Linked DNA regions of Homo sapiens: region 2 is linked to region 1. The links come from fine-mapping of genetic effects on gene expression. A gene starts in region 1. The other region holds a variant in brackets. All regions are shown on one strand. Distances are between the middles of the regions.

Region 1 (5,371 bases):
AGGATTGCTTGAGGCCAGGAGTTCAAGACTAGCCCAGGCAACACAGTGAGACTCCCATCTCTACAAAAAAATTTAAAAATTAGCCAGGCATGGTGGTGCATGCCCATGGTCTCAGCTACTTAAGAGGCTGAGGCAGGAGAGATCTCTTGAGCCCAGGAGGTAAAGGCTGCAGTGAGCTGTGATTGTGCCACTGCACTCTAGCCTCAACAACAAAGTGTGATCCTGTCTCCAAAATAATAATAATAATTATAATTGTTATGATTATTCCTTTTTTGATCAGGGAGATCTTGGGCTAACTCTTCCCTAGGTCACAGAAAGCTCAGACAGCCCTCTGACAATCATGAAGATATCAGGGTAGTCCCTTAAGAGTGTGCAAACACTACAGACAGCTCCTGTGATGTGGAGAAACCTGAGGTATAGACCCTCAACTGATCATGGGGAACTTTGAGATAGTCCTTCTACTCAACTCACAGAAAGCCCTGCCATTGGCCGGGCTCAGTCGCTCATGCCTGTAATCCCAGCACTTTAGGAGGCCGAGGCGGACGGATCACAAGGTCAAGAGATCGAGACCATCCTGGCCAACATGGTGAAACCCCGTCTCTACTAAAAATGCAAAAATTAGCTGGGCATGGTGGTATGAGCCTGTAGTCCCAGCTACTCGGGAGGCTGAGGCAGGAGAATCTTTTGAACCGAGGAGGTGGAGGTTGCAGTGAGCCGAGATCGTGCCAGTGCACTCTAGCCTAGTGACAGAGCAAGACTCCATCTCAAAAACAAACAAACAAACAAACAAAAAAGAAAGGACTGCCATTGCAGGACTATTGATCATGGAGAGCCCTGCCCTGGTGTGAAGAAACCCTTGAGGCAGACCTCCAGGTAGACTACATGACGCACAGGGATCCCAGAGCCAGCACCCAACTTGCAAAGAGAGTTGGAGAGCCTTTCTCGCAGACCTTGCTGCCAACAGGGATCTCTGATGCATCCTTCCTATATTTCTAGTGCAAGAAAATTCATAAGATAGCCCCTAGGGAACAGAAACTCCTGAGACAGCCTCCTTAGTGTGGGAAGAACTTCAAGGTCCATAACATAGGAAAGATGCCTTCTGATGTACAGAGATGCCTGAGATAACCCCCGGAGAAGAGAGGCTGGAGGCTGGAGATAGCCCCTTTAGGAGATCGTAGAAACACAATTACCTCAGTGAGGTACCCTGGAAGAAAACCACTCATGTGAAGAGACTCATGAAATAACCTACATGGAAACCCCTGATGTAGACCCCCCCACTAAGTATATGGCAAGACCTCTGAGATATTGACTTGGGAACAAATAGCTCAGATACTCCAGTGGAAGGAGAAGGTCACTGAGGTAGCCCTCAGGGAAGAGATACCCTAGAGACAGCATGTCTGGTGTGGAAGAGCTCTGAGAGGAGAGTCCAGAGATGTCTCTCTGAAACAGGAAGACTTTCTTCTTCTTCTTCTTCTTTTTTTTTTTTTTTTTTTTTTTTTTGAGACAGAGTCTCACTCTATTGCCCAGGCTGGAGTGCAGTGGCATGATCTCAGCTCACTGCAACCTCCACCTCCCAGATTCAAGTGATTCTCCTGTCTCACCCTTCTGAGTAGCTGGGATTACAGGCCCATGCCACCACGCCCAGCTAATTTTTGTATTTTTAGTACAGATGAGGTTTGCCATGTTGGCCAGGCTGGCCTCAAACTCCTGATCTCAGGTGATCTGCCCGCCTTAGCCTCCCAAAGTGCTGGGAATTACAGGCATGAGCCACAGCGCGCAGCCAATATGGGAAGACTTCCACAACACTTTGGTGTAAGCTGATTACTCAAAAGGCCCCTGAGATAACCCCTAATACCAGGTCACACCCAGCACAGCCTTACTTCTTGGCAATGTTGAGCATCTTCAGTTTCTTCCTCATGCGTGGCCGGGAGGTGGCGGAGACAGAGGTATCCACGAGGGAGGAGGTGGATTGTGACACCTGGGAGAATGAAGGCGGAGATGGGTGAATTGCTAATTCAGACCTTGGAGAAGAGGCAGACGGATCCAGGGGGTCTCCATCAAGGAAGGAGCGGTGGCGGACACTAAGAAGTGTAAATAGGGAAGGGGCGCGGCCTCTGTGTGGTCAGGGCGGACCCCAGGGGTCCCGGACTCACCTTCCGCATAATCTTCCGGCCATAGAAGAGCACTTTGTCCCTCTTCCGGAACCGATACCGGGGGCCATCCGGGGCTGGGGTTTCTGGGGATAGGTGGGGACAGGGGCACTCCGAGCTCTGTGCAGACTCCACCCTGCCAGAGCTGGGGTACCGCGAACAGACGCCAGCAAATCCCCATCTCTGCCGCCTCGGGACCCGGGCATTTGGGCCCCCCACCATACAGCCTCCCAAGAGGGGCCCCTCGGGTGCTCACTTGGCACTCGCAGCCTCCGCACCACCAGGAGGATGAGCACGGCCGTGACCACCACCGCCACTCCGGCCCCGATCATCACGCCAAGCACCTGAGGGACGAACGGCACTGGCTGCGCACCGCAAATCCGTCCCGCCGAGCCTTCCCCGGGCGCCAGGACGTCCTGGAACCCATCCCTCTCCGCCACCTTCGCCCCCGAGGAGTTCGTAGCCAGCCCGTGACTCGATGTCCCCATCTGCAGAATGGGCCAGTGCTGCTCCCTCCCCGGGGGCGCGACTCTTCCCTGAGGCCCGGCGGCCCGCAGTGCATGCCGGGAAACGTAGTTCCGCCCGAGCGGACGCAGCGCGTTATCGCCAGACCACGTAATGCGCGCTGAGCACGCCGGGAGTTGTAGTCCTCTTGGCGCCCCACGCCGGCACCTACCCGGTCTCCGCCCCACCCCTTACCATTCCAGTTTGCAGCGGAGCCTCCATCGGTTGATTCCAGCTGGACGGCCGATCTGGTAGCCCGGAGTCCTGGGAAATCAAGGAGTCGAAGGAACCCGTGCAAGTCGTCAATCTGGGCCCACCTCTCCCCTGCCTCAAGCCCTGCCCCCAGCTCAAGCCCTGCCCTCTGGGGTGGCGGGGGAAGCGTCTCCAGCTGCCAGGGGCGAGGCTAGAGGGGCGCTGCGGGACTAAGGGATGGAGCAAACCGACCTCTCGGCCCTGGCCAGGAGATGAGGCGGGTCCCCGGCTTCCTGCTCCCTTCGCCTACGCGTAGGGCCTACCAGACGCCCGCCTGTCCAACCCCACCCCGGGGCCAAAGGCCGACCTGGTACCCACTGTCAGCAGCCTGCAGGCAGGTCCCCACAGGGCACGGTCCTCTGCACCTGGTGACTTCCTCCCGGGTCACTGCCCTCTGCAGGGTTGATCAAGCCTGACCACCCCACCCCCCAGGCCGCACCCCCTACTCCGTCGAAGACTGAATGCCCCACCCCAGGAAAACGGGCCCGCAAACCGTGGGGTCCGGGAGTGGGCACCTAGATACTCGGCTCCCGACGCAAGCCTGCCCCGGGGAAGACCCAGGAGCTGGGAGGCACGGGAGTACTGCCGGGGCATCCGCGGAAGGCGTCTGATACCCACGTTTCAGAAGAGTCCTGGGATGCTTGGGGTGGCGTGGGCTTGCAAGGCGCTGCTGGTTTTTGCCGGGGATTTACTATCACGTAGTAGTGAAGTTATGGGGGCTCTATGGCACAGAGCATCACTGGGACTCCGGGACCGATGGTGGCGCCATTGCTGGGAGGCGTAACCAGAGACGCTGGGATTAGTGGGTGGGGATGCGGGGTCACTGGAAAGTTACTGAGATTCTGAGGATTACAATACTACTGCTGGGAAAACCAGGAGGTGGGTGGGCACATTCCTGGGGTGCTTATGAGAGCGGGCCTGGGGAGGGCGTCCGGGCTCCTTGGAAGATACTGAGAGATGCTGGAATATTACTGGGATTTTTCTGGGAAGCTGAGGATGTTTCTGACATCGCTAGAATATTAATGGAAATTCGGGGGCCGGGAGATAGGAATCCCGGAGACTCCGAGTCGTTACTTGGAAAATTCCTGGGTGGCCGGTCCTCTTCCACCTCAGGGCACAGCTGGCTACCGGTGTGGAAACACCTGCCGAGACGTGGGGGGTATGGGAACATCAGAAAGTCTAGAGTTAACAGGAATCGGAGGACAGATCGTGGGAAAGCGGAGGCTCGCTAACGACCCTCGAAGGGACACCCCTGCGAGGCTAACGGAAACCCAGACTCACCCAGGGGCCGCAGCCGGGGTCCACTCCGCGCCAACACCGCTAGCGTTCCGCCCGGCTCCGCAGGCACGGCCCCTTTAAATTATTCACTCCTAGTCGCACCGCAGTCCCTCCCGACCCTCCCACCCCTCCTCCCCGCGCCATGCTTGGAAGGCCGACTGAGGCCGCCATGCTGAGTGTGGCCGCGCCTTAAAGGGCCTCACACCGCTTAACGCAAGGACTGCTCCTCCCGCTAAAAATGAAAACGACACATTTATTTTCCCTTTTATTCAACACCCTCCCCACCCAGTCTCCCCGCCCCCAAGGGTCCGACACGAAAGGTCCAGGCCCTCCTCGGGCGCGACAGGGAGCCGATCCTTAAAAGCAAACCCTACAAATAAATAAGCGGGGTCGGGGGCGGGGGTCTCTGCAGTCCAGGGCCTACGGTCCAACGGCAGTCAGGTCGAATCAATTCACCAGCAGCGAATGCTCCTCCGAGGGGTCCCTGGAGGAAGGAAGCAGGGAAGAGGGGCGTCAGTTTTCTCTGGCTCGCTCCCCTTTCCCCATTCCCTAACCTCCAATCTGAATGTGCCAGACCCGGGACTCGAACCTTCCGCAGCAGCAGAGAAGGCTGCAGGCCGAGCCGCTCCCGCGGCGGAACTTGCCGGAGGTGGGGCTGTCCTGGCACTGTGCGATGTAGGCCTGCAGCTCGCTCTCCTCTGCGCCTGCGCCGCCGGGATGCTGGGGAGAGAAGCCGGGAGGCTCAGCCTGAAAGTGGCTCCCAACCTCCAAGGCCCTTGAAGTCCGCCCTCCCCTCCAGCCATATCTGCATCGCTTCCCACCTCCGGGCCTTTGCACTTGCTGGGCCTGCTCCACCCGTTGTTCCACAGTTTGCTTGCACAGAGGGACCTTCCCTGACCCCTGAACCTGGATACAAGCTGTGTCTTTGCCAGTCTGTGTCTTTGCCTTCTGCTGTAGGTCCAGCACCTACAGACCTAGAGCCAGGGCTGACATGACCTCGATGCTCAGAAACCATCTATTGAGTGAGCTGGATGCACGCTGAGCACAGCAGTGGGAGCAGGGCCTGAGACTGCCCACCTGAGTGGATGCATGTGTGTGATGTCTACGTGCTAAGGCAAGACAGGAAGTAGTTCCAAGGGCCTGAGTCAATGTGTCTGTGGGACAGCTGAATCCATGCATGGGGAAAA
Region 2 (5,371 bases), 25 kb before region 1:
CCTGTCCATGGTGCTGACAGCTCGAGGCACTGACAGTCGGTGGGAATTTAAAATGGTGCAGCCGCTATGGAAAAGTTTGGCGTTTCTTCAATTCAACACAGAATCTCCATGTAACCCAACAATTCCACTCCCGGGCATCTAGCCAAGGAAGTTGAAAGCAGGGATCCAGATAGTTGTACACCTGTGTTCACAGCAGCATGACTCCCCATAGCCAAAAGGTGGAAGCAACTCAAGCGTCCAACAGATGAACCAATAAATACCATGTGGTCCATCTACACAATGGGATATTATTCACTCATAAAAAAGATAAACCGTTCTGGCCGGTCAAGGAGGCTCATGCCTGTAATCCCAACACTTTGGGAGGCCAAGGCGGGCAGATCACTTCAGGTCAGGAGTTTGAGACCAGCCTGGGCAACGTGATGAAATGCCGTCTCTACTAAAAATACAAAAATTAAGGCCAGGTGTGGTGGCACATGCCTGTATTCCCAGCACTTTGGAAGGCTGAGGCAGGTGGATGGCTTGAGGCCAGGAGTTTGAGACCAGACTGGCCAACATGGTGAAACCCCTTCTCTACAAAAAATACAAAAATTAGCCAGGCATGGTGGTGCTCGCCTGTGGCCCCAGCTACTTGGAAGGCTGAGGCATGAGAATCACTTGAATCCAAGAGCTGGAGGCTGCAATAAGCTGAGATCGCATCACTGCACTCCAGCCTAGGTGACAGAGAGAGACACTGTCTCAAAAATTAAAACAAAAAACAAAACAAAACCAAAAAACCCCCCCACAAAATTTAGCTGGGTGTGGTGGCGGGCGCCTGTAATCCCAGCTACTCAGGAGGCTGAGGCAGGAGAATCGCTTGAACCCGGGAGATGGAGGTCGCAGTGAGCAGAGATCATGCCACTGCACTCCAGCCTCCAGCCTGGGTGACAGAGTGAGACTCCATCTCAAAAAAAAAAACACAAAAAACAAAAAACACACAGAAAGAAATTGAGGGGTGCCATATCGGGCCCCCAAGAGCACCTGTGAGCCCGGGAGGGTGGCACGGAATGTCTGGCCCTGTGGTCCGGAGTCAGCACTGGCTTCTGAGGAGCCAGAGAAGGGGCAGAGTGGGGACAAGCACCTAGTGGGGCTCCGTGTGGATTCTAGAAAGGCATTCCCTGTGGGGGGCAAGCACCAGGTGGTGTCAGACCCCAGCCCCAGCCATCCTGAGCACAGAAGGTGGGTCCCCAGTCCGAAAACGACAGGAAGCCATTTCCAAGAGGCGAGTTTATTGGGGGAGGGGCTGGTCAAGTCATCAGTGCAACACTGCATCCCCGCTCAGGGCAGGTCAGTCCAGTGTGTGGGCCGCGGGGGTCACAGGCATAGCAGCAGGAGGGGGAGTGAGCTACCCCCACGGGGCCACCCCCAGCCCAGTCCAGGGGTGGGAGGGAGGGGGTGACCCCTGTCGAGGTCCTCAGGCATCTGTGGCTGAGCCGGGCGGCTCCTGGGGCAGACAGCGTCGTTGCCGGAGAATCGACTTCTCCTCCTCCTGCGAGGGAAGGTCACACACACGTCACCCAGCACGGGACACTGATGCGTCACATGTCAGCCAGCACCCAGCACACACAGGATCTCAAATACGCCCCCGGCTCCCCTGCCTGACACTGTACTCATGACCCTCTGGGGGATGTGAGGGGACCCTGGGCCACCCACTCTCACCATCTCGGAGGCAGTGCTGGGGCTTGCGCCCTCGGGGGACCCCCCTTCATCCCTCGAGCAGTCGGGTCCGGCGTCCTCCTCATACTCTGTCAGACAATCTGACTCCTCTCCTGGAATCGGGGAGCAGGGCACAGGTGAGGGGATTGGGGCTGGCCTGCCATCTCCAGCCACTCCCCTCCCTCTTGGGGGGTCCCCTGGGCCCCTCACCGTCAGCACAGCCATCAGAGACATAGCTCGTGGGGGGCTCAATCCGGGACACAATCTCTGCCAAGTCAGTGAAGCCAGAGCTTGGGAAGGCAAGCACCTGTGGGGTGACACTGGTGAGGCTCTTAGGGGGGGCCCACAGAGTCTTGGGGCCCCTGGGGGGCCCAGTGGTGCATTGGGGGCTCAGAGGAGATCCTAGGGTGGGAACTCTCTGAAGTCAGCAGAGGTCTGAGAGCTCAGCAAAACCCAGGGACATGTGGGGTCATCTGAGGTTTCGGGGAGACTTTAAGGGGGCTTGGGTTCTGTAATCAGTGGAGTCAGAGTGGCCCTGGGGGCATCACAGGCTTACGTCTGCACGGCGGCTCTCATTAAGGTCTGTAGACCGCCGGTCTGTGAGCATTTTCTCAATGACGTTGCCACGGCTCCAGCCTCCAAACACCGCCTTCCCGTACTGGTAGCCCACATCCTGTGGGAAATGAGGGGCTGGGTCCATGTCTGCAACCCTGCTTTGCTTGTCCCCACTCTGTCTGCCCATTCTCTGGCCCCTCAAAAGCCTGATTCTCTGGGGGAGTTGCATTTGAGACTAAACCTATTTCAGAGTCAGCTGCACATAGCACACTCGCCTACACATCC[C/T]CTGTCCTGCCCTTGACAGACATTACCAATCAATCTCTCCATGTTCTTTCCCACACAGCCCCATGCAGGGTGCTGGGTAGCAAATAACACAAGGTGGTGATGTGTGAGCTTATTTTGAAGTCTGCAAACAGGCAGTACATCTGTGGATGTCGCCATCCCCAAGCCCACAGCAAACATCTTGAATTTCTCATGGCATGCTATCCCAGTGAGCCCACAAGGGACATCACACATCTCTTCTCAGACTCAGGGCTTCTGGGCTGCAGCTACTGATCAATTTCTTTCTTTTTAAAAAAATTTTTATTATTTTTATCTTTAATTTTTAAAATTAATATTATTTTTTGAGACAGAGTCTCACTCTGTCACCCAGGCTGGAGTGCAGTGGCACAATCTTGGCTCACTGCAACCACTGCCTCCTAGGTTCAAGCGATTTCTCCTGCTGCAGCCTCTCAAGTAGCTGGGACTATAGGCATGTGCCACCACACCCAGCTAATTTTTGTATATTTAGTAGAGATGAGGTTTCACCATGTTGACCAGGCTGGTCTTGAACTCCTGACTTCAAGTGATCTGCCCACCTCGGCCTCCCAAAATGCTGGGATTAAATGCATGAGCCACCATGCCTGGCCCTTTCTTTTTCTTAGAGACAGAGTTTTGCTCTGTCACCCAGGCTGGAGTGCAGTGACGCAATCATAGCTCACTGCAGCTTCAAACTCCTGGGCTCGAGCGGTCCTCCCACCTCAGCCCCCTAAGTAGCTGGGGTGACAGGCATGCACAACCACACCCAGCTAATTTTTTATTTTTAATCTTTGTAGAGATGGGGTTTTGCTATGTTGCACAGGCTGGTCTTGAACTCCTGGTTTCAAGCAATCCTCCCACCTCAGCTTCCCAAGGTGCTGGGATTACAAGCATGAGCCACCATGCCTGGCCCCCTGATCAATTTCAATTGGCTTGGGCTATGGCACATTTTTCAGGGTCAGTAGCACATAACACACGCACTGCTACCTCCCTCTCCTGGAACTGTGGCAGACATTTCTGCTTCATCACTATTCTCATTCCCACCAATGCAGAAATGGCAGTAGAAATCACTATACAGTGCTTCCAGGGGTGCAGCTGGCCTATAAGGAGAAAGTTCTTACACAGCACATGCACAGCCACACCCCTACTACATCCCCTGCAGACATCACCAATTGATCACTGATCTGTTTTCCAGAGATTCCAGATGGGATTCCTGGATTCCTCCTGGATTCCTCCCCCTCATACCACTCTGGGCTTTAAGTAGCAAAGCTTAGCCGGACCACCTATGCAGGCACCATGCCACTCCTGCCCACTCACATAGATCTGGTCGAACTTCCCAAAGTCCATGGTCTTGAAGCAGTCGATGGGCGGGCGCAGGTACTCGCAGTAGGAGCTGGACTTGACAACCTCTAGCTGCCGCACACAGGACACGTAGGCCAGGCGGGACTGGATTTCAGCCATGTCTGGAACCTTTACCTTGTCAGCCCAGGGATTCAGCCGCTTCCACAGCAGCCACCAGCCGGACAGGCTGTCCCCGTAGGTGCTGAGGTCCGTCTCATCCTGGCTCCCCACGTCAATGGCGATGACCGTTTTGGCACCCATGCTGCGGGCGATGTCCGCTGTGGGGCCAGGGGGGTCAGCGGGCTGCTCCCCTCGGGGGCCCGGGGCAGAGATGTTCAACCCAGTCCCACAGATGCCATCATGCAAATGATCACGCAAAAAAAAAAGAGAGAATACCCACACATGCAAACACCATGCTGTCATGCACAGACGTGCAAATGATGCAACTGAAGTTGAGGAGGGGGGTCAGGTGTTGGGAGGTTTTGTTTTATTTTCTGAGACAGAGTCTCACTCTGTCGCCCAGGCTGGAGTGCAATGGCACGATCTGGGCTCGATGCAACCTCCACCTCCCGGGTTCAAGCAACTCTCTTGCCTCAGCCTCTCAAGTAGCTGGGATTAGAGGCATACACCACCACGCCCAGCTAATTTTTGTATTTTTAGTAGAAACCGGGTTTCACCATGTTGGCCAGGCTGGCCTCGAATTCCTGACCTCAAGTGATCCACCCGCCTCAGCCTCCCAAAGTGCTGGGATTACAGGCATGAGCCACTGTGCCCAGCTCAATAAAGCTTTATTTATACAATCAAACAGAGGGCAGGACTCAGCCTGTGGGCCATAGTTTGCCCACCCCTGGCCTACAAGATTGTGAGCATGTGTGCAGTTGGCGTACATGTCTGTTCATATATGCACACTTCTGGGGTGTGAGATTTTAAGTTGTGTACCTGCCCGCTTCTCACCTGCACCCATAAAGGTGGTAGGCATGACTTAACTCGGTCAGAGGTGCCGCATCCTATCTACGTGTGTGCACATCCCTGCGTGTTTGAGGGAACGTGCAGGACAAACGGGACAGACTGGCATGCGTTGGCAAATGCCCTATTTCACTGACACACGTGTTCATCTGTGCACATGTGCCTGTGTGTACACGTGTGTGTAAGCCCTACCTGCCCCTGAGAGAAAGCATGTGCATATATAGCTGGTGTGCACACGAGTGTTGCATTCCACCTGCATGTCCCCTGATGTGTGTGTGGACGTGTGCACCTGTCCCTCTTGTACGTACATCCACTTGTGCTTAACACAGCACGCCAGCAGGTAGATGTAGATTTCTTTCTTTCTTTTTTTTTTTTTTTGAGACTGAGTCTTGCTCTGTCGCCCAGGCTGGAGTGCAGTAGCATGATCTCAGCTCACTGCAACCTCCAACTCCCAGGTTCAAGTGATTTATCTGCCTCAGCCTCCTGAGTAGCTGGGATTACAGGCACACCCCACCAGCCT

Evidence for each region. PIP is the estimated chance that this variant, and not a neighbour inherited with it, causes the effect.
Region 2: its variant is fine-mapped to the expression of PNPLA6 in lung (TOPMed, PIP 0.97).

The regions. Positions count from the first base shown.
Region 1 is chr19:7,533,056-7,538,426 of GRCh38, reverse strand. PNPLA6 (patatin like domain 6, lysophospholipase) reads right to left here and starts at 2,710. Exons shown (of 32, transcript NM_001166114.2): 1 at 2,407-2,710; 2 at 2,154-2,236; 3 at 1,881-1,978. The coding sequence starts at 2,638. It overlaps MCOLN1 (mucolipin TRP cation channel 1), which reads right to left. Exons shown (of 14, transcript NM_020533.3): 13 at 4,774-4,904; 14 at 4,418-4,668. The coding sequence ends at 4,632. RefSeq lists an enhancer at 2,636-2,875.
Region 2 is chr19:7,557,642-7,563,012 of GRCh38, reverse strand. It overlaps PNPLA6 (patatin like domain 6, lysophospholipase), which reads right to left. Exons shown (of 32, transcript NM_001166114.2): 28 at 3,862-4,163; 29 at 2,249-2,365; 30 at 1,903-1,999; 31 at 1,696-1,805; 32 at 1,249-1,525. The coding sequence ends at 1,451. Among named protein-coding and RNA genes, the nearest start is that of PNPLA6, 25 kb to the right of the region's middle. The variant C/T (reference allele first, on the strand shown) is at 2,533.